Homo sapiens: one gene and its partners. The protein of the gene in region 1 purifies or fractionates together with the protein of each later gene. This does not show direct contact. Each region holds a gene or a part of one and is shown on either strand. Other genes may lie near its edges.

Region 1 (5,739 bases):
GTGTGGTGGTGCATGCCTGTAATCCCAGCTACTCAGGAGGCTGAGGCAGGAGAAATGCTTGAACTCGGGATGTGGCGGTTGTGGTGAGCTAAGATTGTGCCACTGCACTACAGCCTGGGGCAACAGAGTGAGACTCCATCTCAAATAAATAAATAAATAAATAAATAAATAAAATAAAAATACAATAAAATAAGAGTAACATTTTCTCACCTTGCCATGAAGCTGGGTAGGCAACACACACATACACACACTCATGACTGAAATTCAGTGGGTGCAGCAACATGAATGGAACTGGAGGCCATTGTCTTAAGTCAAACAAGACACAGAAAGACAAAGACTGCATGTTCTCACTCATGAGTGGGAGCTTAATAGTGTGTACGCATGGATGTAGAGAGTGGGATGATGGACCATGGCAACTCAGAAGGGTGTGGGGGGTGGTGATGGGAAATTGCTTAATGGATACAACGTGCAGTATTCAGATAACAATATCATAAAAACCCTGACTTCACCACTGTGCAATCTATGCAGGTAACCAATTACACCTGTACCCCATAAATGGATAAAAATAAAAATTAAAATAAAATTCGCTGGGGACCAAACCATCTATCATTTATCTTTCTCTTTCCCAGTGCTCCCCTCACAGAGCCTGGGATGCAGAAGTTTGATACATGTCTGTTGAGTCAGGAAATAAATGAATGGAAAGCAAATGAATGACCAATAAAAGGGCCACTTACACCAAGCGCTATGGGAACACAGAGAGTGAGTGAGCAAGGAGCCTGGGGGCTCCTGAAGGTAGGAAAAAGCCCACGAGGACACCATAGGGCAGGGGTGGGAGTGGGTTCACGGACTGCAGCAAGAGCCAAGGGGAGGGAGTGCAGGAGTTTCCCAGACCACCCATTCCACTCTCCCCATCTCTCCTACCCACAACAGCCAGAGACGGGGGGCATGGCCAGTAGTCGGTTTCGATTTTGGCTGGCTGGTTGGGGTCTGGGGGCTGGGCTGCAGGAAACTTGGATGACTCGATGATGAGATCCTCGATGAGGTGCTTGGTCTGAGGGCTGCCTCCCACGGACTCTGCAGACAAAGGCCAGGGTCAGCCAGGTGTGCCCTGCCCGAGGCCAACTTGGCTACCTTCACCCCTCCCCCCTCACACCTGTGAGGTCCTGCAGGTAAAAGCAGTGTACACGCTGAGCACGGGGCACACGTGCTGCTGTGACATGCTATCCTCCCGACCCCCTCCAGCCAGCCCGCAGCCCCAGGGCACGGCCTCCCAGCATGCAGCCGGAAGCAGGCTCTGGTGAGCCAGGGGCGCCCTCACCTCTCTGCTTATAGATGGGAGGCTTCTTGTAGATGTTGGAATCTGGGCGGGAGGTCTCTGTGGGAGGAAGAACAGATGAGGAGGAGGACATGCTGATGGCAGGGAGGCTGGGGCCAGGAGAATGGAGATGATGGAACGGGACAAGGTGGGGAACTCACTGGCCCCTGTCAAGAGCCAAGACAGGGCTGGCATTCCTGGCACTGCCCCTCAGGGGTTTGGGACATTTTACACTTTTCCGGCTGGGGGAGAGAGAAAAAGTGACAGGTCTCCCATCTCTGGGAGGGGTCCTGGCCTCCTGGGGCCTACTTAGCCCTGAGGCGAGCATATACCCCAGAGAGTGGGGGACTGAGCGTAAGGGGATTGGGGTTCCTGATGGAGAAAGTCTTAGGAAACAATGAGGTCGTGCCGAGAAGACCTACCAGGGTGGTGGAAATGGGGCAGGCTGGTCCGGGGGGTTCCAGTGGTTCTGGGGGCCGAGGCCTGAGAGATGATTCCAGGCGACCGGCTGTCCGCCCACACCTGCAGAGCAGAAGCGTGTGGCTCCAGGGCCCCTAACCCCCTCCAACCCACACATGCACCCCATCAGCTCACACCACCCTCTCTGTCCTCCCATCCTGGCCGGCTGCATCCCTCCAAACCCAGGGCAATGTTGTGGCACAGTTCCAAGGACCTACTGATGGTGCCTGGCCCAGGGAGAAAGGGTTGAGGTCCTGGGTCCGACAGAATGATGGACACAGAGCTGGCCAGTGACAGCCAGGGGGCCGCTGATTCGGGCACTCCCTGGGCTCTGCAGAGCTTGGTCTGATGTGTGAGGGGAGGGAGTTAGGATCCCCTTCAGGGCAGGGCAGGGCAAGTTGCAGGTGTGGGGCAGACTCACCTCTGGGGATGGTGGGGGGGATGTGGATTTGGGTGACAGCGAGCGCTGTGAATGGAGAGGGGGCTGGTCAGAGCTACAGGGGCAGATTCAGCCTCTTCCCTAGAATTCCAGAGAGGCCACCTCATCCCCCACCCAAAGCCGCACACTTTCCTGGCCAGCTTCTGGGCCACCTCTGCTTTCTTGGATCCTTCCCACAGTTCCCTGCACAAAGTCCTCAGCCTTCCCACAGGAGGCACAGAGAAGCACGCGAGCCTTGCTCAGTACTCCTGGGGCTCCAAGGGCACTCTTTTCTTCCTTCCTTCCTTCCTTCCTCTCTCCTCCCCTTTTCTCCTCTCTCCCGCTCTCATCTTTCTTTTAATTTTTTCCTACTTCCTTTGTCCTTTTTCTTTCTTTCCCTGCCTTCCTCCCTTCCTTCCCTCTTTCCTTCCTCTCTCTCTCCACTTTCTTCTCTCTTGTCTCTTATTCTTTCTCCTCTATCCCTCTCTCATCTTTCTTTCTTATAGTCTCACTCTGTTGCCCAGCCTAAATGCAGTAGCTCTATCACAGCTCACTGCAGCCTCCCCTTCCCAGCCTCAAGGGATTCTCCCACCTCAGCCTCCTGAGCAGCTGAAACTACAGGTGCACAGCACCACATCTTGCTAATTTTTGTAGAGATGGGGGTCTCCCTGTGTTGCCTGGACTGGTCTCAAACTCCTGGCCTCAAGTGACCCTCCCACCTTGGCCTCCAAAAGTGCTGGGATTATAGGTGTGAGCCACCGTGCCTAGCCTGGGAACCAGTTGGGGAATAGTTTGTCCTGTCCTCAGAGCCTCAAAACAAATAGAAGAGACAAGACCAAGAAGCATCCAAGGATGAGGTCGGGGTTTATCACGCAGGTACTGAAGTCACCCCATGATCTAGCCCCCTGTCACTGGTCAGCCACGACGCTACCCTGTCTTGGAGGCAGTTGATGAGTACCTGCCTTGCACTGTCTCCTGCACCTTCACTACCTTGCGCGTGGATGGGCAGAAAGGTCACCTCTATTTTACACGAGGGTAAGCTGAGGCCACAACATCACATGGGTCCCTCCGCTAGACTTTCAGCCCCCGCTCTCAATGCTTCTGAACTGTTTCCACAAATCTTGCTCTTTGTGCCTCTTGTGTGTTGCTGCCATCCAAAGGTGTCCACCCCTCTACATCTGAGCCACATGCCAGCCCAGAGACCGTTCTGCCTGCTCTCTTGAACACCGGATGGACTGACTGGTTGGTTCCTGCGCACAGTTCCCTCTCTTGTTTTGCCGAGGCAGACCTCCAGGAAAGGAAGCACGGGAGGGATCGGTCCCCACCCAGTGTGGCTGGGGGGGGCCTCCCCCGGAGTCCTGCCCAAGAGGAGCCCCCTCACCTCGCGGCTGCGAGGCAGCTCCACGTGTTCCAGGAGGGAATAAGTGAAGTGAGGCTCGTAGATCATGAGGTCGGGCCGCTCGATGTCCAGGATGGCCTTGTCCTTGGGGATGGCAGCCAGGTCCTTGTAGCCCAGCACCTGATTGTCCATCTTGGCCTGAAGGGAAAGGTGCGCGTGAAACTGCTGTGCCGAAAGCCCCGCCTAGGACACTGGCCCTGCTAGCTAGACTTACGTCAATTACCAAGAAAATGGACCGCCATTGCAGACGTTAACAATTCTATTATTTTAAGAAATTAGTCACCTTAAAACATGATAGTCCTTTGCCTAGCACTTCGGATTAACGAGGCCAGACCAGTGGAAGGGGGATATGGGAGCTTCTCTGGGTTTCTGGGTTCTCTCTGCCCGCCAGCACCGGAGGGACCACCACTGGGGAGGCTCTGCGGGAAGGCACGCTAGCAGCCAGGGGTCCCCCACCCTCCCCCCTCCCAGCCAGGGGTTGCTGGTGGCCGAGAGGGGTACTCACCACGATGCTGGAGGGAGAGCCAGGCACACTGGAATCTCGGGAGGGGCTCACGCTCCCGGGGGAGGTAAGTGGTTGCTGGGGAGAGCGAGAAGGCGGGCGGGTGGGCACGTGCGTGTGTGCGGGAGCGGGGCGGGGGCGGCCCTAGGCCTGGGGGACCCGGGGCGCTGCGCGGCGCTGCGCGGCGGGTGGCCACCAGGTGGCGCCCTGGACTCCCAAGCGGCCCCCACCCGCCCTCGGCGGCCCCGGCCCGGGGCGGCGCCGCGCACCTTCTGCAGCCGTTCCATGCAGCACGGAGCTCGCCCGCCGGGTCACTCGCAGAGCCCTGTGCGCGAGGGGAGAGGACAGCGTGTCAGGCTCGGCGCGGCTGCTGGGCGCTGCGCGCTTGGGGCCGCGAAAGCAGCTGGCGCGTTCCCCCGGGCTGGCGCGTCCTCATCCCTCGGCGGTGACTCTCCAGGCTGCGGGGAGAAGGGAGGGAGGCCGCGCCGGGGCGGCGTTAGGCTGCGGGGCCTCCGCGGGCGGCCGCTCTCCAGGCAGCCGGGCCCCTTGCGGCTGAGGCTTCCCATCCGCTCAGCCCCGGAGAACGCGCGCGTGGACGGGAGGCGACCGAAGGACGGGCTGCGCTTGTTTTTGAGCCATTGTTCTCTGGCTTCAAAGGAAATGACGGCAGGGGTCAGCCGGCTGCCCGGGCGGAGGCCTCCACGGCCTGGCCCCGCCGCACCTGCCCTCCCCGCCCCGGCCCGGCCTGCGGCCCTGGCTGAGGCCCTCCCCTCCCGGCCGCTGGTCCCACTCCCGCTCGGGGCACTGTCCCCGCCGCCACCTCCCCGCGCTCGCCCAGGAAGGGTTAACACAGAGGGTTCCCTGAGCAGCCCGGCTTCTGCATCCCTCATCCAAAACCTGACATCCGCACTCCGAAACTTTGTGAGTGCCTACCATGACGCACAGGTGGAAATTCCACACGTCAGAACTTCACACAAACTTTGTTTCATGGAAAAAATTATTTTTAAAACACTGCATAGGTCGGGCATAAGTGGCTCACGCCAGCAATCCCAGCACTTTGCGAGGCTGAGGCAGGAGGATTGCTTGAACCCAGGCGTTCGAGACTAGGATGGACAACATAGCGAAACCTTGTCTTTACAGAAAAAATTTTAAAAATTAGCCAGGCGTGGTGCTGGATGCCTGTAGTCCCAGCTACTCGGGAGGCTGAGGTGAGAGGATCACTTGAGCCCAGGAGATCGAGGCTGCAGTGAGCCGAGATCGCACCACTGCACTCCAGCCTGGGTGACAGAGTAAGACCCTGCCTCGTTAAAAAAAAAAAAAAAAAAAAAAAAAAAAGGTCTTGCTCTGTCGCCCAGGCCGGAGCGCAGGGGTGCCATCTCGGTTCACTGCAACCTCCGCCTCCCAGGTTCAAGCGATTCTCCTGTCTCAGCCTCCCGAGTAGCTGGAATTACAGGCGTGTGCCTGGCTAATTTTTGTATTTTCAGTAGCGATGGGGTTTCACCATATCGGCCAGGCTGGTCCTGAACTCCTGACCTCAAGTGATCCGCCTGCCTCGGCCTCCCAAAGTGCTGGGATTACAGACGTGAGCCACCGCGCCCAGCCCTACCTTCCTGCTTTTGACACCTTCCACTGCTCTGTCCACCTCT
Region 2 (5,739 bases), on another chromosome or scaffold:
GCACTTTGAAGATTATTTGGCTTATGAAGAGTAATTAAACCTACATGCATTTCTACAATGTTGATTAGATTTTTAACCTTAATTTAATGCTCCTGTGCTAGGCTGTTTTGGTGCAAGTGAAAAATATATAAGACATTAACAAACTATTTTTATAATTTTAGAAGTGGAAAATATGTGTACAAACCTGTCATGAATCAAACATGTTGTCCTCAGTACACAATAAGGTAAGAATTTTAATTAGTAGAAAGAGGATTTATAGTATGAAGATTGTGTATAATATTTTAGTAGTCTCTTGTGCTTTTTTAATGTTTATTTCCGCTCTAGGTAGATGTCCTTTAAAAGGAAAAGTAAATGAGTTATGTCTTTTCTTCATACTGATGCTGTATTTATGTGCTGATCAGTAGGTTTTAGTAATATTGTTTGATTGGTTCAGATATAAATATGTGAAAAAAATACCCTCTTAATTTAGCAATCTTGTCAATGAATGCCATGAAATATTGGGAAAATGTTGGTAAATATTCACATTACTTTTGGATATTAAATATTATAGGACTTAGCTTAGAATTTTCTGCATTCTGGTGTATTGCTTGACACAGTGCTTGTGTTCAAGCAATGCTACAGGCTCCTATAAATTACTTGGTAGGTTCACGTTCTCATGTTGTGGGATTCAGGAGGACAAGAGAGACCTCGGGTTAAAACAGGAGAAACTTTATTGAGTGCACTTAGGCCCAGCTGACTCAACGTCTAAAAGACTGGGCCCGGAACAAAGACTTTTATACACAGTTCACAGAAGGGGGTGGGCTAGCTTGAAGCAAGCTTACAGTGGCGTGAAAGCAGGGATACAGAGGCAGGACAAACTCAGGATTGCACATGACCGTTGCCAAGCAACCCAGATGTCCGTTATCTAGGTTTGCCTGGGCTTATCCCATAATCTTCACTATGGTGCCCAGGCAGCTGCAGTTCAGGCCTACTCAGGCTTCTCATGACATTCATTGTACTTCTCAGATAAAACAATACTTGAAGTCACTAGTTACAGAGAACAGGAATCTATGAACTCATTCCGTAAAACAAAGGAAAATTTATTTTTTCTTCTCTGCATGTTGAGTGCTGGGAGAATCTCCAGAGCACACTAGATAATATTATCAAGGCTTTTCCTGGGTCTGGGCCGTGCCTGTTGCTGCCTCTGGGACAAGTCGGCCTAATACAGGAAAGCTTATTTATCTTTCTTTTTAATTTTATTTTTCTTTAATTTCCCACCTCACTCACTTATAAGTGGGAGCTAAACCTTGGGTACTCAGACATAAAGATGGCAAAAGTAGAAGCTGGAGACTACTAGAGGAGGAGGGAGGGCGTGAGCTAAGGGTTGAAAAACCAACTTGGTATGACGATCAGTACCTGGGTGGTGGGATCATCCATATTGCAAACCTCAGCATCATGCAATATATCCAGGTCACCAGCCTGTACCTATACCCCCTGAATCTAAAATAAAAGTTGAAAAAAAAATTAATTGGAAGGAAGAGGGCTTAAATTTAATCTGCCACTTACACTTAGAGTCCAGTTTTTTTTTTTTTTTTTTAAAGAGACGGAGTCTCGCACTGTCGCCTGGGCTGGAGTGCAATGGCGCGATCTCGGCTCACTGCAACCTCTGCCTCCTGGGTTCAAGTGATTCTCCTGCCTCAGCCTCCCGAGTAGCTGGGATTACAGGTGCCTGCCACCACGCCCGGCTAATTTTTTGTATTTTTAGTAGAGATGGGGTTTCACTATGTTGGCCAGGCTGGTCTTGAACTCCTGACCTCATGATCCACCTGCCTCAGCCTCCCAAAGTGCTGATATTACAGGCGTGAGCCACTGCACCTGGCCCAGAGTCCAGTTTTCTTAAATGGGAAACTTAAACCAAAGTCTATTTTCCTACAAAGTCTTCGTTGGATTTTTTCATAATCTTTTGGATTTTCCATGTACCTTCTCACCTCACCCTAACATAGAAAAATCTTCTCTCTTATTCTGGTTATAAGGTCATCATCATCTTTTTCTTCTTTTTTCTTTTTTTTTTTGAGACAGGGTCTTGCTCAGGCTGGAATGCAGTAGCACAACCATGGCTCACTGCAGCCTGCCTGCCAGGCTCAAGTAATCCTCCCACCTCAGCCTCCCAAGTAGCTGGGACTGTAGGTACACACCACCAGGCCTGGCAAATTACATTTTTTTTTATAGAAAAGGGGTCTTGCCATGTTTCCTAGGCAGATCTCACCATGTTTCCTAGGCTGATCTCGCCATGTTTCCTAGGCTGATCTCCAACTTCTAGGCTCAAAGGAGCCTCCTGCCTCAGCCTCCCAAAGTGCTGGGATTATAGGTGTGAGCTACTACTGCACCTGAACCTTTTTTTTTGATAGAAAATGTGAAAAGTGCGTTAACATTTTGAAGCATGTATTTGCCCCCAATTTCAATGTGTATATATACTCATAAAATTAAAAGACAGTTTTACTTTAAGAAATGAAAAATTAAAAAATTAAACAGTTTTTTGTCCATTAGTTTTTTTGTTTGGTCCTCAAAGCTGTCTCCCTTGGTTGCTCTTAACTTGTTTTTGGGTTGCAAACCATTTTGAGAAGTCGATGAGAGCTGGCCTCCTGCCCAAAGGGATGTAGACAAAAATATGTAACATTTTGCATATCCTCCCCACCGAGACTGAGTCTTGCTGTGTCACCCAGGCTGGAGTGCAGTGGTGTGATCTCAGCTCACTGCAGTGTCCGCCTCCTGGGTTCTAGCAGTGCTCTTGCCTTAGCCACCTGAGTATCCGGGACTACAGATGCCCACCGCTAGGCCTGGTTAATTTTTGTGTTTTTAGTAGAGACGGGGTTTCACCATGTTGGCCGCGCTACTCTCGAACTCGTGATCTACCCACCTCAAAGTGCTGGGATTTCAGGCGTGAGCCACCATGCCCAGCACATTTTGCGTGTTAATTTTAGAATGATCGCAGACTCCCAAAGGTTCACTGATACTTGATTAGGAGCTTTTTTTTTGAGATGGAGTCTTGCTGTCGCCCAGGCTGGAGTGCAGTGGTGCTATCTCGGCTCACTGCAACCTCTGCCTCCCGTGTTCAAGCGATTCTCCTGCCTCAGCCTCCCGACTAGCTGGGATTACAGGCGTGCACCACCACACCTGGCTAATTTTTTTGATATTTTTAGTAGAGATGGGTTTCACCATGTTGGCCAAGCTGGTCTCGAACTCCTGACCTCAGGTGATCTGCCCGCTTCAGCCCCCCAAAGTGCTGGTGTATCTGGAGTTGGTTCCTTCTGGTGGGTTCTTGGTCTCGCTCACTTCAAGAATGAAGCCGCAGACCTTCGCAGTGAGTGTTACAGCTCTTAAATGTGACGCAGACCCAAAGAATGAGCAGCAGCAAGATTTATTGTGAAGTGTGAAAGAACAAACCTTCCACAGTGTGGAAGGGGACCCTAGTGGGTTGCCACTGCTGGGTAGGGTGGCCAGCTTTTATTCCCTTATTTGTCCCTGCCCATGTCCTGCTGATTGGTCCATTTTACAGAGTGCTGATTGGTCCATTTTATAGAGTGCTGATTGGTCCATTTTATAGAGTGCTGATTGGTCCATTTTACAAACCTCTAGCCACAGAGCACTGATTGGTGCGTTTTACAATCCTCTAGCTAGCTACAGAGCGCCGATTGGGGCGTTTTACAATCCTAGCTACAGAGAGCTGATTGGTGCATTTTACAATCCTCTTGTAAGAAAAGTTCTTCACGTCCCCCCCACCCCCGCCCCGACCCAGAAGTCCAGCTGGCCGTTGGATTGGCAGAGGATGAGAAAAATGGGGTCTGGTTTGCTGACACTGTGTCATTACACAAAGAATAGAATGACAGAGTATCCTGTGCTGTCCTCTTTCAGTTTTCGTGGTTATAAAGAGAAGGTATCTTCTAAGGCAGAAGTCATTTGTCTTCAATTAGCAATTTATTGGATTATGGACAGGATTCTATTCATAAGTTTGAAGTTGATTGGCTTAATCTGTGATCAGAAAAGGGTGATTTCGATTGGTTAAAGAAAAAAGAATCTAAATTGTATTTGGTGCCTGTTACATGGAAAGCACTATTCTAAGCATATTGCCTTTATAAAAGGGGATTCATTAACATTGCAAAATAAAGTAGTTATGTGATTTTTGCATTTTACGTGGCATCAAATGTTTCCTGAATTGCGTCTCTTTGTAATTCATTATACATCATCTTTTTTTTTTTTTTTTGAGACAGAATCTTGTTTAGTCTCCCAGGCTGGAGTGCAGTGGCGCGATCTCTGCTCACTGAAACCTCCGCCTCCCAGGTTCAAGTGATTCTTCTGCCTCAGCCTCCTGAGTAGCTGGGACTACAGGCGCATGCCACCATGCCCTGCTAATTTTTGTATTTTTAGTAGAGACGGGGTTTCACCATATTGGCCAGGTTGGTCTGGAACTCCTGACCTCATGATCCGCCTGCCTTGGCCTCCCAAAGTGCTGGGATTACAGGCGTTGAGCCACTGGGCCCAGCCACATCATCTTTTTATGGAGTCATTTTCCATATTTACTCTTCTGGTTATTTTTACCTTGTATATAACAGCAGTTGCAATGAGAACTTAGATAAAGGAAAGGGGCTTATAGCTAACAGCTTAGCTTCTTGTTAGTCAGTAGGGACTCTCCAGTATGTGTGTATAAATGAGGATGAACTTTTCTGGCTATGATTTTTTAAGTTTTTTATTTTTATCAGAATTCCACATGCTCATTAAATGTCAAGTTGCAATAAAGTTTGTTTTGGAAAAAGCAATCCCCCAACCCCCCTGTCCCATTTCCTGTTCCCCTAAGGCAGTCATCTTGAAACATTTTAACTAATTCTTTTGGTTTTTCATCTCCCTGTCTTTAAGCAACATGCTTATATAATTGTAACACTTGCATTTTTTTTCTTTTTCTGTTAGTTTTCTCCATTATTTCCGGGCTTCTCTCTGTGGAAGATAAGGATTTAGTTTTCTCTTATCCCTGTTTCCCTGCCACATTCAAGCTCGTTTTTGTCCCCATCCCTAGCTTTCCATTCAGAAGTGTGATTTTGGGCAGATGTGTTCATATCCATTGTGACTGTGTAAATATGCTTCACAACTGAACCATGGCGGGTACTGTGATTACTTTTCCTGCACAAGTTTTTGCTTTCCTTGGAGTTACTAATTATCTTTTTTGTTTGCATAGTGTATATAACTATGACCAGATTATTTTGAAAATAAATCCCAGTTATGTAAGTTTTTTCTTAGTATATTTAAACGCATCAAGTGCTATGATCGCTTTTATCTACTTGAGAAAAGTCCCTTGTGGAGCCTTCTGACCGGCTTGATCTGAACAGGTTACCCCCTGCACCTGAAGCATCACGGTCAGCCTGGGCTATTTTTTTTTTTGAGATGGAGTTTTGCTGTTGTTGCCCAGGCTGGAGTGTACTGGCACAATCTCAGTTCACTGCAACCTCCACCCTTGGGCTCAAGTGATTTTCCTGCCTCAGCCTCCTGAGTAGCTGGGATTACAGGCGCCCACCACTATGCCTGGCTAAGTTTTGTATTTTTAGTAGAGATGGGGTTTCATCATGTTGGCCAGGCTGGTCTCGAACTCCATACCTCACATGATCCACCCACCTCGGCCTCCCAAAGTGCAGGGATTACAGGCATGAGCCACCATATGTGGCCTGGGCTATTCTTTTTACTGTCATCTTGGGGATTTTTTTTTTTTGTTTG
Region 3 (5,739 bases), on another chromosome or scaffold:
CTCCCAGTTCTTCAGGGATGGACTAAATGGCATCGTAAGCAATGGCATCATTGCTTACAAACATGTCTTGACCTTGGTGGGGCTTATGTTGAGAAATAAAGCTTATATTTTCTGTTTTCATCTTTGGATTCCATTTTTGCATGAACTTTTTGTAGTTCCCTCATACGTATTCTCTTTCCATCCTTAAAAAGCAGCTCTGTGAGGCTGGTGGTGGTCTCAGCACTATACAGCGGTCATTGAGCCTGGAGGCCTTGGGGTGCTCTTCTGAGTGGCAGAGTTGGCTTCAGACCCAGTGGTCTTGGATACTGCCACTTACCAGACAGAACCCATTAACTGCCAAAGTCACCATACTGTGGAAGATGACACAAAAATTTGAAAACAAAATTAAATCATTTATTAACCTCACAGGAAAAATGCAGTTTTCTGTACACGTCCAGCATAATTCATTCTAATCCAGAACTAATTGAAATTGGACTCAATGAAATAGGGGTTGCCACCGTGAAAGTGCATGGCTTTATCTTCAGGCGCAGCTACAAGGCACTGGGCTCTGTGTCCGCAGTGTTTTGTCAGACAGCGTTGGGTGAGAGGATTGGGTAACGACGGCCGTGACTCTCGCCTGAGTACTGGAAGGCCCGTCCTGGATGACACATCGCTTCCTCTCGTTTCAGTTGTCGACAACAGTAGCAACTGGGCAGTGTGTGGGAAAAGCTGCGGTGTCATCTCCATGCCAGTGGCTGCTCGGGCCACTCACAGGGTCCACATGGAAGTGATGCCGCTCTTCGCCGGGTATCTCCCCCTGCCCGACGTCAGGCTGTTCAAGTACCTCCCCCATCATTCTGCACACTCCTCCCAACTGGACGCTGGTAAGGACTTTGGAAGAAAAAGTTTACCTTCAGTATTTGAGCAGGTGAGCACTTTGTGCGAGAGGTGATAAACTTATGACTGAGCAGGTTGGAGAACTAGCGGCGTGTTTTCAGTGCCGGTAGAAACTGGTACTAGAAGCCTCATCCGCTGTTAGAATCTTAGGCACCTGCTCTGAAAGCCAAGCCTCTGTGCACAGAGTGCTCTGTAAAGGGGCAGCCTCGGGTGGCATTCTGCACGTTCAGCCTGGCTCCGTGTGGCTTTGCCCGTCCCCAGGTGAGTGTCGGCGCAGCTTGGGTCTAACTTCCTGTGTGTTTTGCAGACAGCTGGATAGAAAACGACAGCCTGTCAGTAGACAAGCACGGGGACGACCAGCCGGACAGCAGCAGCCTCAAGAGCAGGGGCAGCGTGCATTCGGCCTGCAGCAGCGAGCACAAAGGCCTACCCATGCCCCGGCTGCAGGCACTGCCGGCCGGCCAGGTCTTCAACTCCAGCTCGGGCACACAAGTCCTGGTCATCCCCAGCCAAGATGACCACGTCCTGGAAGTCAGTGTAACATGACAACGCCAGGGTGAACACACGCCACTTCCCAGCTAGGAGTGCACTTTATGGGACTGTGACTGGACTCTTCCGTTCTGGCTCCAGCCAGACCTTCAGTGGTCCTGCCTGGCCGTGGGGACATCAGAGAGTGTCATCACGCAGCTGGCCAGCTGAGTTCTGTTGTTGTTTTCATGCCGCCTGTGATCTCAGATTCCTGCTTTTCTCACCCCGTCCCCATGCTGGTGTCCGACGCCGCTTACTCAGAGCCCTGGCCTCCCTCCCCCTACCTCACACGCTGCTCATGAAAGTTTCCACCCACGCTGTCTCCACGGAACAGCCTCCGTCTGCTGGCTCTTCGTGGAAGGCCATTTGTCTTTCAGGTAGACACTCAGCAGCCCTCACGGTCTTAGTGACGTGTGTGCCTTTCTGGTCACACAGCTGCCCAGTTTCCTGATCGGGGTGGATTTGTGTCCCCTAAGGGGTAAAACAGCCGTTTACCGCAGATCCTCTCATTGTGCTTTTCTAGAATAACACCCTTCTAGGGGAGGCGGGTGGGGGAGGGAGGGATCATAACCCCTTCTGTGCCTTGGGATGCCGGAGCTGGGGGACCTGGAGGCCCATCAGCCGGAGCCACGTGAAAGGTACTGAAGAAAGCTGAGACCCGGCTGTGAGGAGCGCCTCAGCGGTGAGGTGGTTTAGGGATAAATGTTTCTGGAACCCTGTGGTCCCCCATAATGTTGATAGAATATCATATGCACTGGGAGTTAAATATATTTAATTTAATGATCATTATATATGTGGGGGTTAATATGTTGTTTTTCTGTCCCTTTAAAGTCTTTACATGTAATTGTAGCTGTATAATCGTTATTTTTCTTTTGCATCTTAAGTCTTAGAAATTAAGATATTCCATCGTGAGGATGAGAGAGGTCCTCAGTGTGTTTTTGGTCTGGTTGTAGGGAAGGACTCAAGTCCTGGAATGTCCTCCACTGGTCTACTGAGTTGCAGTCACACTGTTCCAATGGATTATTTGCTTTCGGTTGTAAATTTAATTGTACATATGGTTGATTTATTATTTTTAAAAATACAGACTAACTGATGTAATGTTTATGTATAAGTTGCACCAAAAATCAAGGACAAAAATAAGTGTGTTTGTTTTTACAGGTGTGAAAGTCACAGCTTGTAAATAAGTGTTGTATGTATTAAACCTTTTCCAGTTCTCCAAAGCGATGTATTTTTGTACACTTGAAATAGAGTACTCTTAATTTACTGGGCAAATGTGCTTGGAATTGAACTTGACAAGATTAGCTCAAGCAGATAGAGTCGGGTCCAGCAGTGGGTGGCCCTCGTGTGAATCCCCGTGGATGTGCAAGTTGTGGAGAGAAGGAGCACCGGGTTCCTGCCCAGCACTGTGCTTGCGGGAGGCGGTGGGGCATGGGAGGAAGGAGGCACAGACCGGGGAAATATGACAGCCGTCATTTCCAGTATTCTCTGTGTTGTCTTTTAGCTCATTCAATAAATAAAGGTGGTGTGATTTTTTTTTCCTCCTGTCTTTTTCATTTGTAGAAACTGGAGACGTGTAAAGAAGATAAATAATTGTGTAATTAAACTTTCCAGAAATTTATCTTCCTCATGTGCAGTTTAACAAACTTGGTCAAACTAGTTAGCAAATTAGAACTTCAGAATCTAATGATAGTTTAGGGTTTCTAAAATAAGGTTTTTTATTGTAAAAATTGACGATTGCCCTGCATTTCTACCAAGTCCTGTGAATAAAGAGATGGGAGATTTGATTCCGTCAGAAGAGACTGTAATCCGTGTCGTCAGCCTGGGAGCCTTCCCCAGTGTAATGTAGCTTTCTCTCTTACCTTCTGGAAGAGGGAATGTTTCATTTATTACTGTTTGATTTTCTTGTATCTGGTTCTACTCCCAGGATGAAATTATCCAACTACATATATATTTAGAGGAAGAAAGTGAAGGGGAAATTTAAAATGTTTACGGCGCTTAATTGCCTGGAAATGAAATGAAATCAAATTTATCAGTTTTTTTCCCCCTAATTACCCAAAAGATCTTTTGCAAACTATGTTACATGAATGCTTCTGCCTCTTTAAGACAAAGAAGAATGTCACCCAAAATTGTCATTTTTTTCTTAATGTTCATCATAAAAGTCCTAAAAGAGTAACTGTAATTGGATGTTTATTGTTTTTATCTAAAGTAAGGTGTATGTGTTTGAGACAAGCTGGTTTTGTTGATAAAGAGATGTTAAATAATTGTGAAGCCAGATATGCAATGTGTATCTGAAAAGCAAGGAATTTGCAGCCGTTTTACAAATATCTGTGGAACATGTAAATACTGTCAAATGGAAAATAAAATAAGTTATAATTTTTGTGAATTTCATGGGATGTCCTATGATTGGAAAAATTATAACTCTTCTGATTCTAATGTGGAAATTGTTGTATTTAATCTGAAAATGACTTTACCTACAACAGTTCCATTGTCAGCACAGCCTAGGAAGGTCAGATCCTGTATTAATTACTCTTAGTGGAGATGCCAGATATCCCATACAGAATTAGCAGAGAAAATACACACAGGCTTCTATTCAAATTTTCTTTAGTGCTTAAAATTAAGTTTTAAAATGAAATCAGACACTGCAGGTTTGTATATAAAATGAAAAGCTATACTACTTTTTACAAAAGGGCAAACTGGGCTGATGTAAATGTTTTACTTTCAACTGTGTTCTTTAAAATAAATCCTACCTGGTTTTTAAATTTTATTTTTCATGAAAATGCTCCTTTCTCTACATTTATTCATCCTATATACATCAGGCTGTAAGACCCCCCCCAGTCATCATTAATACAATGTGTTGGGATTCTGTGACTGGAAAAGGTGACAAGTTGGTGACTTTGACACTGCAGGTATTCCATTTTCATGGTTTACTATGAAAAGTCATTTTTCATATTATGTAATATATTGTTAGATTAAAACCATTGTATTAAGACTTTAAAATGTAAGCATTGTAATTCTGAAAATACACATTTTAAGAAGAAACTATTTTGCACTGGATCTTTTGCTGCGACATGGTGTGACAACAGTATGTAATGTGAAGATTTTATTGTTTTATCTCCCTAGTCCTTGTTCCTGACTCTTGGGCATAGATTATTTGCCTTTTGGGAAACATTCGGATTATTTTTTTTTTTTTTTTTTTTTTTTTCTCTGAGACAGTCATGCTCTGTTGCCTAGGCTGGAGTGCAATGGCGCGATCTGGGCTCACTGCAGCCTCCGCCTCCCAGGTTCAAGCCATTCTCCTGCCTCAGCCTCCCGAGTAGCTGGGACTACAGGCATGCGCCTCATTTTTATACTTTAGTAGAGATGATGTTTCACCATGTTGGCCAGGCTAGTCTCGAACTGCTGACCTCAGGTCATCCACCCGCCTCAGTCTCCCAGGCGTGAGCCACCGCACCGGCCAGCATTCGGGACTTTATTCATAATTCCTTACCCAACAGTTCACAAGAACGAAGACATTTGGGTGTGCAGCGCTCTCATGTTGTGGACGCTGCTGTGCCAGGCTGGGCGTCCGTGCGGAGCGCGCCCAGCGCTGGAGCGCGCCTAAGAGGCGCCCTGCAGTGTGGCTCCGGGGTGTGGGCGGGGCCCGGAGAAGGCCCCCGCCTTGGGAGGGGTTGGGCCTCGCGTTCAAACTCCGCCTCGGGGCGGGGCGAGGGCGACGCAGCTCCTCCTGCCTCCTGGGCCGCTGCGGACGGTGGTGCGCGACCCCGTCCCGGGCGCGCGCGCTGTGGGCGGTGCACGCCGTCGCTTCCCGGAAGTGCGTGCTGTGGGCGGTGCCGCGCGGACCCCCGGGAAGTGTCTCTGTGGGCGGCCGCCGGGTTGAGCTGCGGCACACGTGCGACGGCCGTGATGAAGTTCGCTTACCGGGTGAGCGCGGGCGGCGGGCGGTCTGTTGGATCGGCGCGGCTCTTCCGGTGGACGGCGCCTGAGCTGGCTCCGGGCGGGCTGGGGGCGCGTGGTCTGCTTTTGCGGCGTCTGGCCGCGTGGGGGTCGCCGGCTGTCTGCGCGCCCGTGGCCTCGGGGACGCGGGGCTGTGGTGGGGCTCCTGGGAGAGCTGGGACGGAGGCGCCGACGGCTTCTCGGAGGGAACAGGGACATTTGTCGGGGTCCCGGGATATTTTTAACCTGAGTATGGCCCAACCTAAAGGCTGGAGTTGGTGCAGTCGGGGAGGGCACAGCACCCTCGGGAGGGATGAGGAGGTGGGACGGGGCGGGGACGCGGGCGCGCGCAGGCGGGGTGAGAACAGCAGGGACCCGGGGCCCGGGACTGGTCCCTAACGA
Region 4 (5,739 bases), on another chromosome or scaffold:
TTTTTTTTTTTTTTTTTTAACTCAGCCTTTTAAATTTTGGGTGTATGATATATACAATAGTTTCCTCTAGTAGACATATATATGTACTCTATGTATCTATATAAAATACAGCATATATATATATTATATATATATAAGATACAAATACATTGCAAGTGCTTGGTTAATTTTTTTTTTTCTTGGTAGGGTTTTGTGATCACAAAACTTCTGCAGTTTGCTGGTCTATATTTGGACTCAGTAGTCTCCTACCCCTGGGCCCCTCAGTGCTGAGCAGGCCTGATGAAAACCAGGGGGATGGCTGAGGCACAGGCCTACCAGGAGGGAGGGGGCAAAGAGGGAAGGAAGACAAGAGCTTAGTGTCACTCTATCCATGTGCGGAACCAGCAGCAAGTTGATGTATGACCAAGCCAGCTGTCTTATTTTATATATGTACTTCAGCCAGCAGAGGTCCAGGAGTTAAACTCATTTATCTGAGACCACACTGATGGTTTGTGAGCCACATGTTCTGGCCTGGCTCTTCACTCAGTGTCCATTGTTTTCTTTTCTTTTCTTTCTTTCTTTTTTTTTTTTTTCATACAGAGTCTCACTCTGTCACCCAGGCTGGAGTGTAGTGGCATGATCTCGGCTCACTGCAACCTCTGCCTCCCAGGTTCAAGTGATTCTCCTACCTCAGCCTCCCAAGCATCTGGAACCACAGACGTGTGCCACCATGCCCGGCTAATTTTTTTGTTTTTTGTTTTTTGTTTTGAGATGGAGTCTCTCTCTGTCACCTAGGCTGGAGTGCAGTGGCACAATGTCAGCTCACTGCAACCTCTGCCTCCCGGACTCAAGCGATTCTCTTGCCTCAGCCTCCCAATTAGCTGGGATTACAAGCATGCACCACCGCGCCCAGCTAATTTTTGTATTTTTAGTAGACGGGGTTTTACCATGTTGCCCAGGCTGGTCTTGAACTCCTGACCTCAGGTGATCTACCCGCCTTGGCCTCCCAAAGTGCTGGGATTACAGGCTAGAGCCACTGCGCCTGCCATTTTTTTGTATTTTTAATGGAGACAGGGTTTCACCATGTTGGCCAGGCTGGTCTCGAACTCCTGACCTCAAGTGATCCGCCCACCTCAGCCTCCCAAAGTGTTGGGATTACAGGTGTAAGCCACTGCTCCTGGCCACTCAGTGTCCATTTTACTGGTGGCCTGGTTTGTAGGAAAGTAGGTGTGAGTTTGGCAGCTAGAAACCCGGGAGGACAGACTAGTCAATGAACCAGCAGCTTAAACAAATGGCAAGCAGCTTGCAGAAGTAAGCAGGGCTTTGGTGACTTCTACGCTAACCACCTCCCATCTTAACTGGTTTACTTACAGAGCTGGAAATTAATCATTCTCCTCCCACTCCTCTCTCTCAGATTTCTGCTCAGGAAAGTAGGAGAAAGAAGAAAGAATACATGGACAGCCTGGAGAAAAAGTAAGCCTGCTGGCAAACTGTTGCGTTCATCGGGCAGTATGCACAGGGAAATATGGGTGTGCGGAGAATCGGGGAGAAGCAGTTCAATTCCTCTTTCTGGCCACCTTGGAAACCCGGTGGTTTATCAGCTGTGGTTTGCCTGCCACCTAGTGGTTATTTGGAGGAGACGTCTATAATAAAGCAAGAAAGAAGTGAAAGTACCTTAGTAGGTGTTTGAATCATACCACTGCCAGCCAAGGACCCCGGAGTCCTCACAGACTTCTTTTCAAACACATACAAATATTAACATTCCTGCACATTCCTGGAACTTCTAGCAGGAGAAGCCCTGTTTTAGCTGAAAGGAGCAGTGCTACTTAATCAGCCCCCATTGGCCACACTCCTTCATGCTCTAGAGAGGGCACATAGGGAAAGAAAGATGTCAGGTTGGCAGCCTTTATTTTCCAGCCACTACAATTCATGTTTTTTTTTTTTTGCAAAAACACTTGAAGGCAATCTTTGTTCTTTTGAAAAGTCTGTAATATCAGGCGGGCTGTTAGAAAAAGATGAATTAAATACAGTTTTGTCTTAGCCCTGGAAGTTAGTTCTTTAGCTAACAAACCAAGATATTTTTAAGATGGGCATGAGGCCCCAGACCCAGAAATGAACTTCATGTGGATCTGGGGAAAGGAGTGGCTGGTGGTTCCTGGCTGTTTCTCAAAGCTACTATTGAAAGTTTAGTGCTTCTATCACCTGACTTAAGTACTGGTAATGCAGCATTAAGTATAGTTGGCTCTCCATATCTGGGGGTTCAGCGTCCTCAGATTCAACCAACCATGGGTCTAAAATATTCAGAAAAAAACTTCAATAGGCTGGGTGTGATGGCTCACTCTTATAATCCCCGTGCTTTGGGAGGCCAAGGTGAGAGGATTGCTTGAGCTCAGGAGTTCAAGACCAGCCTGGGCAACATAGCCAGACCCCCTAAAAAATAAAAAAAAATTAGCCAGGCATGGTGGTGCACATCTGTGGTCCCAGCTACTCAGGAGGCTGAGAGGGGAGAATCACTTGAGCCCAGGAAGTTGAGGCTGCAGTGAGCTGTGATTGTGCCACTGCACTATAGCCTTGATGATAGAGTGAGACTCTGTCTCAAAAAACCAAAGCCAAAACCAAACAACTCAATAAAAAAAAACTACAACAATAAAAAATAATACAACTATAAATACAAGATAACACATATTTACATAGTATTTACATTGTGTTTGGTATTATAAATAACCTAGAGATGATTAACATATACTGGAGGATATGTAAAGGTTATATACAAATACTACACCATTTTTTAATCAGGGACTCGAGCATCTGGAGATTTTGGTATCTGTGGGGAGTTCTGGAACTAATCCCCCCTGAATACCGTGGGAAGACTGTAGTCCCATGCTGTCCCACCATTTTCTATGGGCATCCAGGGTCAAGATGTTCCTATGAAAGTCTCTTTACTGTCTCTTTTGGGCATGCGTGCCCCAGCACCAGGATTCCTAGTCCTGGGCTCTCGTCCTGCCCTTTGCTTAAGTCTCTTCACTTCTTATCAGTCCTGGTAAGAGTGTAGCTGGGAGTATCCAGATTACTGTAGTATAGAGGGAGAAGTATGATGGGCATTGAGAACACTAGGGAGGAGGTGAGAGGAAAGAGGTTGTAACACCCTAAAAGAGGGTCATATTTTGTACTGTCACTATTCATCTTTCATTATTCAGGCACTCATCACTCAGCTCCCTCTTTTTTTTTTTTTTTTTTGGAGACAGAGTCTCGCTCTGTGGCCCAGGCTGGAGTGCTGTGGCATGATCTTGGCTCACTGCAACCTCTGCCTCCCAGGTTCAAGTGACTCTTCTGTCTCAGCCTCCCAAGTAGCTCGGATTACAGGCACACACCACCATGCTCAGCTAATTTTTGCATTTTTAGTAGAGATGGGGTTTCACCATGTTGGCCAGGCTATTCTTGAGCTCCTGACCTCAAGTGATCTGCCTGCCTCAGCCTCCCAAATTACTGGGATTATAGACATGAGCCACTACGCCCGGCCCCAGCTCCTTCTATTTTTCTTTTTTTTTTTTTTTTTTGAGACAGATCTTGCTCTGTCACAAGGCTGGGGTGCAGTGGCGATCTTGGCTCACTGCAACATCTGACTCCTGGGTTCAAGCGATTCTCCTGCCTCAGCCTCCCGAGTAGCTGGGATTACAGGCACGTGCCACCACGCCCAGCTAATTTTTGTATTTTTAGTAGAGACAGGGTTTCACCATGTCGGCCAGGATGGTCTCTATCTCCTGACCTTGTGATCCGCCTGCTTCGGCCTCCCAAAGTGCTGGGATTACAGGCGTGAGCCACCGTGCCCGGCCTATTTTTTTTTTTTTCTTAAGTCTCTTCATCCTTCTTTCAATACTTTCCCACACTTCCATGGGGTGGCAGATCCCCCCAACCCTCCTTTTCCTCATCCCCACCTACCTCCACCCTAGCTCCTAGCTTAGTGTTTGCTCTATGGATAATAATTTTCTTCTTTCTCCCTCCTTTGTAGAGTGGAGTCTTGTTCAACTGAGAACTTGGAGCTTCGGAAGAAGGTAGAGGTTCTAGAGAACACTAATAGGTAAGTGTCACTGGACTGAGAGCTGATTGCGCTACCAATGGAAGATGGGGAAGGAAGAGGATAGAATCCAGAACCAGGGATGGCAGAAAAGTGGAGGAGGTCACAGTGAAAGTGCAGTTGTGCTGAGATGCTCAGCATGGCCAAACTCCACCCACCCACTCCTGCTACACACACACGCATGCACACGTGCTACTCTTGCACATATACAAACACATATGCACACATGCTCTCATGTTCACATCCACAATACACATATGTACACACTCTCATATGCACATACATGTACACATACATGCATATTCTTTACTTTTCCTAAATGATACAGGATTGAAGAAGAAGCTGATCATGACAAGGACTATGACTAGGGGGTTAAAAAAGAGGCTTGGAGGAGAATAAGATCAACAAGCCTGATTCTCCTGAAAATGACATCAAAATTTAGAGGTGACCAAGGAGGCACTGGCCACTTCATTATAATCTAATTTTAGTAGCAAATGATACTTATTAGTTTAAAAAAAGAGAAAATCATTGGTATTTTTTTTTTCTTTTTTTTGAGACGGAGTCTTGCTCTGTCGCCCAGGCTGGAATGCAGTGGCATGATATCGGCTCACTGCAAGCTCTGCCTCCCGGGTTCAAGTGATTCTCCTGCCTCAGCCTCCTGAGCAGCTGGGACTACAGGCACGCGCCACCACGTCCGGCTAATTTTTGTATTTTTTTTTTTTTTAGTAGAGATGGGGTTTCACCATGTTGGCCAGGATGGTCTCAATCTCCTGACCTCATGATCCGCCCCCACCTTGGCCTCCCAAAATGCTGGAATTACAGGTCTGAGCCACTGCTCCGGCTGCAAATCATTGTTTTTTAAATTAGTTTTTTAAAATTAGCTAGTTTATTAATTGCATTTCAAACCCATTTTACAAAAATTGTAACGGTACCAAGTTGATAAATTCCTCTAGCACTTGCTGTGCCCAGTGCTATTTTAAGCACTTTACAGCTATGAACTCATTTAGCCCTATGAGATGCCATTATTATCATCCTCACTATATAGAGGAGGTAACTGAAACTCGGAAAGTCTAGGTGATTTGTCCAAGGTCACACAGTAACCGCTAAAGCTGCATTTGAACCCAGGCAGTCTGGCTCTGGAGCCTGGATGTGGGAGGAGTATATGGAGGTTTATGCCTGGCTCATATGCAAGAGAAAGGGGTGAAAGTGCAGGGTTAAGAAACTGGCTTTTGGGGAGTTTCATCCAGAATGTATGTGTTCATGTGCACACATGATACATACCTGTGCTGTGACAATTATTTCTTAGAGACTCCTGTCACCCTGAGTGTTAGAGATCCAACAAATTAAGCAGAGAAAAATGGACTTACTGGGTAAACAAAAATTTAATCAGATTAAGGGTCAGTGTTAATGCCCAGTAACAATTGTGCAAATATTAAGGGATCAGTTTAAATCTCTTTGCATGTTATTTGATAATAACAAATGAATTTAATTCCCGTTTCCTGATGCTTCATGGTTTGTTGCTCAAAAAGCCAGCTAATATAGACATAAGCTAAAACTACCGCCAGTGGGATCCCCCTGAAATTTTCTCTGCATTTCTGGGAATGTGTGCTCAGATAGCAGTCAGGGGCAGTTCACCCCAAGTGCTCTGTAAGACAGACTGCCCAAAGGGAGGAAGTGCCACCAAC
Region 5 (5,739 bases), on another chromosome or scaffold:
TTAGGACATCTAGACATGTATTGCTATAGATTAACTAGTTGGAGCTCATTAATTTTGTTACCTTGGTTTTAGGGATTAATACAGCATGGGCATGTACATAAATGATGAGGGTGATGAACATACTACATAAAGAAGAGCTTCTTTTCTTTGAAGTATTGGTAATACTATGTGTGTATGCTGTAGATGTATGTGTGTACTTATACACACATATGAAGGCAAACTTAGATAACCTTTCTTAAACAGTTTATATATACATCTTACCTCTTACGAAGTTGGTCTCCCAAAACGTAGATAATTGGTTTTAGACCTAATTTTTTAATAGTGGAAATTGATCTTTTTAAAATTATTTACAAAGTACTTCAGAGATGCAGTAGAAAATGTATTTCACTTCACAGAGAGGTGGAAGTCATTATATGAAGGTAAAAATGACAAAAATATTGTTTCAACAGGAAAATAATGAAACTGGCTTAGAGAATGTCATAAACAAAGTGGCCACATTTAAGTAAGTGCTTAATATTTATGCTTATTCTAAAAGGTAGTTTGATCTTTGTTCTTGTACTTTGGATACTTTGTAGAAGCTCTGAAGTTCTTGCCTGAACTCCCAAGAATAAGAGTGGAATACAGATTAGAAAGGGTGAGAATGAGGGGCTCACAGTAGACACTTAGCACCTGTTTGTTGAAAAAATGAGTGTTTTTGGCAAGTGAATGAGAAATACTCATTTATGATATTAGGTGATTTATTTAGATAGTAAGTAAATGAACTTTTCTGATACTCTCTTTCCCATTAATCTGAACCCATGATTTCATTTATTTTATAAATTTTTATTTTATATGCTAATTTTGGATTATTCTCTGGTAGAATTAAAACAGTATTTTATAATATTTTCATTTCAGTATATAAAATGGAAATACAAATTTAATTGTATTAATCTTTGAAATTTGAAAAATCGATACTGATAGTGAATTTCTACTTGTTACAGTATTGTGTTTACAGATACATTACTAGTTTCAAATAACTTTTAAAATAGGGTATAGCTTTTCTTATGATCTAGTAATGTTCATTGAAATATTCGACTTAGAGATTGGATAGAAACCAAAAGCTGTTTAATGTTTAGAACAAATATGGAGTACTCCTTTTGACCTCAGTGATTTTCCTTATAGTACTATATAAAGGATTCAGTAGTATATTTTCATTTGCAAATTACTAAGGTTATGATGTCTCCCTACTGTTTTAGATATGACCTTAGACAATGAAGTGTCTAAGGTCAATGAAGTGTTCTTTAGTTGAACAGACAACCTTTAGGCATCAGAGACTCTTAAATCTCTAAGAAGCTTTAGAGATAGGGCATGGTATCAGTTCTAGATAGTATAAAACAAACTTCTCCAGATTTGTTTGAATTTCATTATTATAAAACACAGCTTAGCTGTTATCAGGCTTTGTGTTCACAATGTAGGTTTTTAGTTTTATTATTGCAATGGAATTTTTCATAAGCTAAATGAGACATAATTTTTTTCTGTATATTTGACTTCTAGATTAATTTTTAGGTTTTTATTTTGTCTATATTTTATACTTCAAGAACACTGCAGTTCATCTTGTATTTTCCATCTATTTAGGAAACCAGGTGTATCAGGCCATGGAGTTTATGAACTAAAAGATGAATCACTGAAAGACTTCAATATGTACTTTTATCATTACTCCAAAACCCAGCATAGCAAGGTAGAAAAAAGTATCCTTTTCAGTAAATAAACCTAAATGCTTTATGCTTTCTAACTCCACAGAAAATTTTCTGCTTTTTCTATAGTTTCACGCTGGTTCTTATTAATAGAGGTCATTATGTCACCCAAGAATTAAAATTGAATCAATAATCTTATCTAGTATACAGGCAATATTCAGATTTTCCTGATTATACTACATATGTCTTTAATAGCTGTTTTGGGAAGAGGATTCAATCAAGCATCATGGACTTCATCATCACACACTCATTTGATTGTCATGTTTCTTTAGTTTTTGTTTTGTTTTGTTTTTTGTTTTTGTTTTTGTTTTGTGAAATGGAGCCTCACTCTGTTGTCCAGGCTGGAACGTAGTTGCACGATATCAGCTCACTGCAACCTCCACCTCCCAGGTTCAAGTGATTCTCCTGCCCCAGCATCCTGAGTAGCTGGGACTATAGGCACATGCCACCATGCCTGGCTAATTTTTGTATTTTTAGTAAAGACCGGGTTTCACCATGTTGTCCAGGCTGGTCTCAAATTCCTGACCTCAAATGATTCCACCCACCTCGGCCTCCCAACGTCCTGGGATTACAGGCGTGAGCCACCTCGCCCGGCCAATAGTTTCCTTTAATTTAGAAGATAATTCTTTTGCATTTTTTTCTTTTGTAACATCGGCATTTCTATAGAGTACCAAATAGATTCAGCTTAAACAGTTTTTGGCAAGAATACTATGTAAATGATATATTGCATCCCATTATTAGGCACATACGTCTTTTTGTCCCATGAAGGATCATGTTAAGTTTGATCAGTTAGTTAAGGTGATGTCTGGCTTTGTCCTTATCAAGTAAATACTTTACAGCCCATAGCATAGTACCCTGTGCATAATAGGTACTGGGTAAATATTTTCAGTAGAAAATAATGGAGACTAAGTTTTTGATCAGGGATATTCCTCATCTATTTTGCATTAGGTTTCTCTAGAACACAATTTTATTTCTAGGACAAAGAGGCATTTTGAATACATGCTTCAGTATATAAAGTATTTTAATAGGTGGTTGGGTCTTTCCTGACTGCTTTAATGTATTTCATTTGTTTCATGCTTCCAAAGCAGTATATTTAATGATAGATTTTTTTATAGGCTGAACATATGCAGAAGAAAAGGAGAAAACAAGAAAACAAAGATGAAGGTAAAAAGTGAGATTCTGAATTGACTCATTTTGACTATTTTCTGTGGTTTCACATCAGCAAAGCATATAGTTTTTTGTTGTTGTTGGTTTTTGAGAGTGGGCAACTCAAGGAAGTGCAAAGAGCTTTTTGCTTCTTATTCACATATTAAGATATGGTATATATCAGTAGTGATTGAATTTAAAATTGATAACAAATGTAGTTCATTTTGGGTGACTGATATAGTACTTACATTACACTTAACATTGATATTTTCAGTACTGGAAAGGTAGCAAAAAAGCATGTGTTGTTTTGCATGTAACCTATTATTTTTTGACATTTGCACTTTAGTATGTAGGATAACCCAAATAAAAATGTACCTGTTTGTCTCTTTCCCCATCCATTCCCCACCTCCTATAGCATTGCCGCCACCACCACCTCCTGAATTCTGCCCTGCTTTCAGCAAAGTGATTAACCTTCTCAACTGTGATATCATGATGTACATTCTCAGGACCGTATTTGAGCGGGCAATAGACACAGATTCTAACTTGTGGACCGAAGGGATGCTCCAAATGGTTTGTTTACCTGAAATATTTTCTCTACATCAAGTCCTAGAGTTCTTGGGGAGCTAGGGAAGATCTCAGGTCTAACTTCAGTTGGAACCACATCTAGAGCACCGGAAACATAGGGGTCATTAAAAATAGCTTACACACAGCACAAATTTTTTTTAGTGATCTCGTGTTTTTAGCATCCTTACTCTTGGGAACCATTTCTGTTTAATAAAACCCATGAAAACAAAAACAGGTGTACTTATGCTAATAAATTGACATGTTGTTATTGTGTCATGATTTTTTATATTTTTAATTTTACTTGAATTATAAGGAGACAGTATAATAAAATTTGAAGATAGGTCTAGACGTCAGTCTTGGGTTTCCCCACTTCCTATTTAAGGAGCAAATAATAATTTTCTCATTAGTAAAATGGATAAAAGTGTAATTATTCATAGAGGTAGGAGAATTAGCTAAAGTGAAAGCAGCTACTTTTCCTTGTTACTGTTGTAGATAAATACACGTTACTTAATTATGCCACGTCATGGTAGTTGTAACACCATATTTATTTATACCTGCCTAACTAAATGTTCCTTTTTCCTTGAGTATTGTTGGTCTACAGGTTCTAAATGCTGTCATTGCCATATGTGTGCCTCAATTTTTATTATAACACTGATAAATACATTCACTAGTAAATTTCAAACCATAGAGATATGTTTGAAACCAAGTTAAAATTTCTCTCCCTGAGTCCCAGTATGCTATATAGGACATAAGCATTGTTAAAGTTTTGTATATTCTGGAAATCATTGCACATTAGTGCATATAGATCTACTTATTCTTGATAGCTGCGTAGTCCATTGTATGGATATAATGTGTTTCAGTAGTCTCCTATTAATAGACATTCAGGTGTTTCTAGGTCTTTGCTGTAACAAAGAACAATAAAATGTACGTTCTTATACAAATGTTTTTGCATACCTAAGGGAGCGTATTTGTCATACTAATTCCTAATAGTTGGTATATACCTTTACATTTTTGATAGATGTTTTCAAATTGGCCTCCAAAAATGTTATACCAGTTTACTTTACCATCACCACTATGGTCAAAAGTGCCTACTTCCCAATACCTATGCCAGCTCTATATTTTACTAAACACCAAAATTTTTGCCACTGTAATAGGTGAAAAATAGGATGATCTTGTTTCAACTCATTTTTCTTTAAGTGAGGTTGAACTTTTTTTTTTTTTTTTTTTTTTTTTTTTGAGATGGAGTTTCACTTGTCACCCAGGCTGGAGTAGGCTGGAGTGCAGTGACACAATCTTGGCTCACTGCAACTTCCGCCTCTGGGTTCAAGCGATTCTCCTGCCTCAGCCTCCCAAGCAGCTGGGATTACAGATGCCCACCACCACACCTGGCTAATTTTGTATTTTTAGTAGAGACAAGGTTTCACCATGTTGACCAGGCTGGTCATGAACTCCTGACCTCAGGTGATCCACCCACCCAAACCTCCGAAAGTGCTGGGATTACAGAAGTGAGCCACCAGCTCCGGGCCAGGTTGAACATTTTTCATATGTGTATTCATCATTTCTCTTTCTGTAAACTGCTTAATGTGAACTGCTGAAACCTTTCCGTGTTTTTTACCTATCAGCTTTCTTATTTTTATACTTCTACTTAAAATAGATTTACCTTGCTAGGCATGGTGGCCCATACCTGTAATTGCAGCACTTTGGGAAGCTGAAGCAGGAGGATCACTTGAGCGCAGGAGTTTAAGACCAGCCTGGCCAACATAGTGAGATGCTGTCTATACCCCCCGCCCCCTCCAAAAAAAATTTAGCTGGGCGTGGTCGTGTGCACCTCTAGTCCCCAGCTACTCAGGAGGCTGAGGCAGGAGGATCACTTGAGCCCAAGAGCTTAAGGCTGCAGTAAGCTAGGATTGCCCCACTGCACTCCAACCTGGGTGACAGAGTGAGACCAGTCTCTGAAAAAAATTAAAATTAAATTAAAAATATATTTACCTGAAGAAGCGCAATTTTAAAGATCTCTTATTTTCCTCCTTCAGGCTTTTCATATTCTGGCATTGGGTTTACTAGAAGAGAAGCAACAGCTTCAAAAAGCTCCTGAAGAAGAAGTAACATTTGACTTTTATCATAAGGCTTCAAGTATGTTTGAGTATCACTCTTCAACACATTTGTCATTGAAAGTCTAGATCTTAAGGAGTTTTAATTTGTCAATCCTGAAAGTTTATATCTTACAGAGTTTTAATCTGTCAGTCCTTAAAACATAGGTAACCCTGAAATAATTTTTTTCCTAGCATTCTTAGTT

The links.
Region 2: the proteins of DMTN (region 1) and ATE1 purify together in Homo sapiens (affinity purification with mass spectrometry; one large-scale study listed by BioGRID and IntAct). This does not show direct contact.
Region 3: the proteins of DMTN (region 1) and TRAPPC10 purify together in Homo sapiens (affinity purification with mass spectrometry, with the first as the bait; one large-scale study listed by BioGRID). This does not show direct contact.
Region 4: the proteins of DMTN (region 1) and CREB3L2 purify together in Homo sapiens (co-immunoprecipitation; one large-scale study listed by IntAct). This does not show direct contact.
Region 5: the proteins of DMTN (region 1) and UBR1 purify together in Homo sapiens (affinity purification with mass spectrometry; 3 studies listed by BioGRID and IntAct, with this or other methods). This does not show direct contact.

Annotation. Positions count from the first base shown.
Region 1 is NC_000008.11:22,065,517-22,071,255, reverse strand, and holds part of DMTN (dematin), read right to left. Parts: intron 4,741-5,739; exon of another isoform or gene 4,552-4,740; 5' UTR 4,381-4,551; coding exon 4,363-4,380; intron 4,172-4,362; coding exon 4,097-4,171; intron 3,730-4,096; coding exon 3,574-3,729; intron 2,241-3,573; coding exon 2,196-2,240; intron 1,838-2,195; coding exon 1,738-1,837; intron 1,376-1,737; coding exon 1,319-1,375; intron 1,075-1,318; coding exon 922-1,074; intron 1-921. UniProt on the Homo sapiens protein: Membrane-cytoskeleton-associated protein with F-actin-binding activity that induces F-actin bundles formation and stabilization. Its F-actin-bundling activity is reversibly regulated upon its phosphorylation by the cAMP-dependent protein kinase A (PKA).
Region 2 is NC_000010.11:121,916,834-121,922,572, reverse strand, and holds part of ATE1 (arginyl-tRNA--protein transferase 1), read left to right. Parts: intron 1-161; coding exon 162-224; intron 225-5,739. UniProt on the Homo sapiens protein: Involved in the post-translational conjugation of arginine to the N-terminal aspartate or glutamate of a protein. This arginylation is required for degradation of the protein via the ubiquitin pathway. Does not arginylate cysteine residues.
Region 3 is NC_000021.9:44,102,110-44,107,848, forward strand, and holds the end of TRAPPC10 (trafficking protein particle complex subunit 10), read left to right. Parts: intron 1-668; coding exon 669-863; intron 864-1,183; coding exon 1,184-1,422; 3' UTR 1,423-4,443; downstream 4,444-5,739. Other genes in the region: PWP2 (periodic tryptophan protein 2 homolog), read left to right, coding at 5,308-5,325. UniProt on the Homo sapiens protein: Specific subunit of the TRAPP (transport protein particle) II complex, a highly conserved vesicle tethering complex that functions in late Golgi trafficking as a membrane tether.
Region 4 is NC_000007.14:137,899,672-137,905,410, reverse strand, and holds part of CREB3L2 (cyclic AMP-responsive element-binding protein 3-like protein 2), read left to right. Parts: intron 1-1,393; coding exon 1,394-1,452; intron 1,453-3,988; coding exon 3,989-4,057; intron 4,058-5,739. UniProt on the Homo sapiens protein: Transcription factor involved in unfolded protein response (UPR).
Region 5 is NC_000015.10:43,022,539-43,028,277, reverse strand, and holds part of UBR1 (E3 ubiquitin-protein ligase UBR1), read left to right. Parts: intron 1-449; coding exon 450-502; intron 503-1,614; coding exon 1,615-1,717; intron 1,718-2,848; coding exon 2,849-2,897; intron 2,898-3,294; coding exon 3,295-3,449; intron 3,450-5,476; coding exon 5,477-5,576; intron 5,577-5,739. UniProt on the Homo sapiens protein: E3 ubiquitin-protein ligase which is a component of the N-end rule pathway. Recognizes and binds proteins bearing specific N-terminal residues that are destabilizing according to the N-end rule, leading to their ubiquitination and subsequent degradation.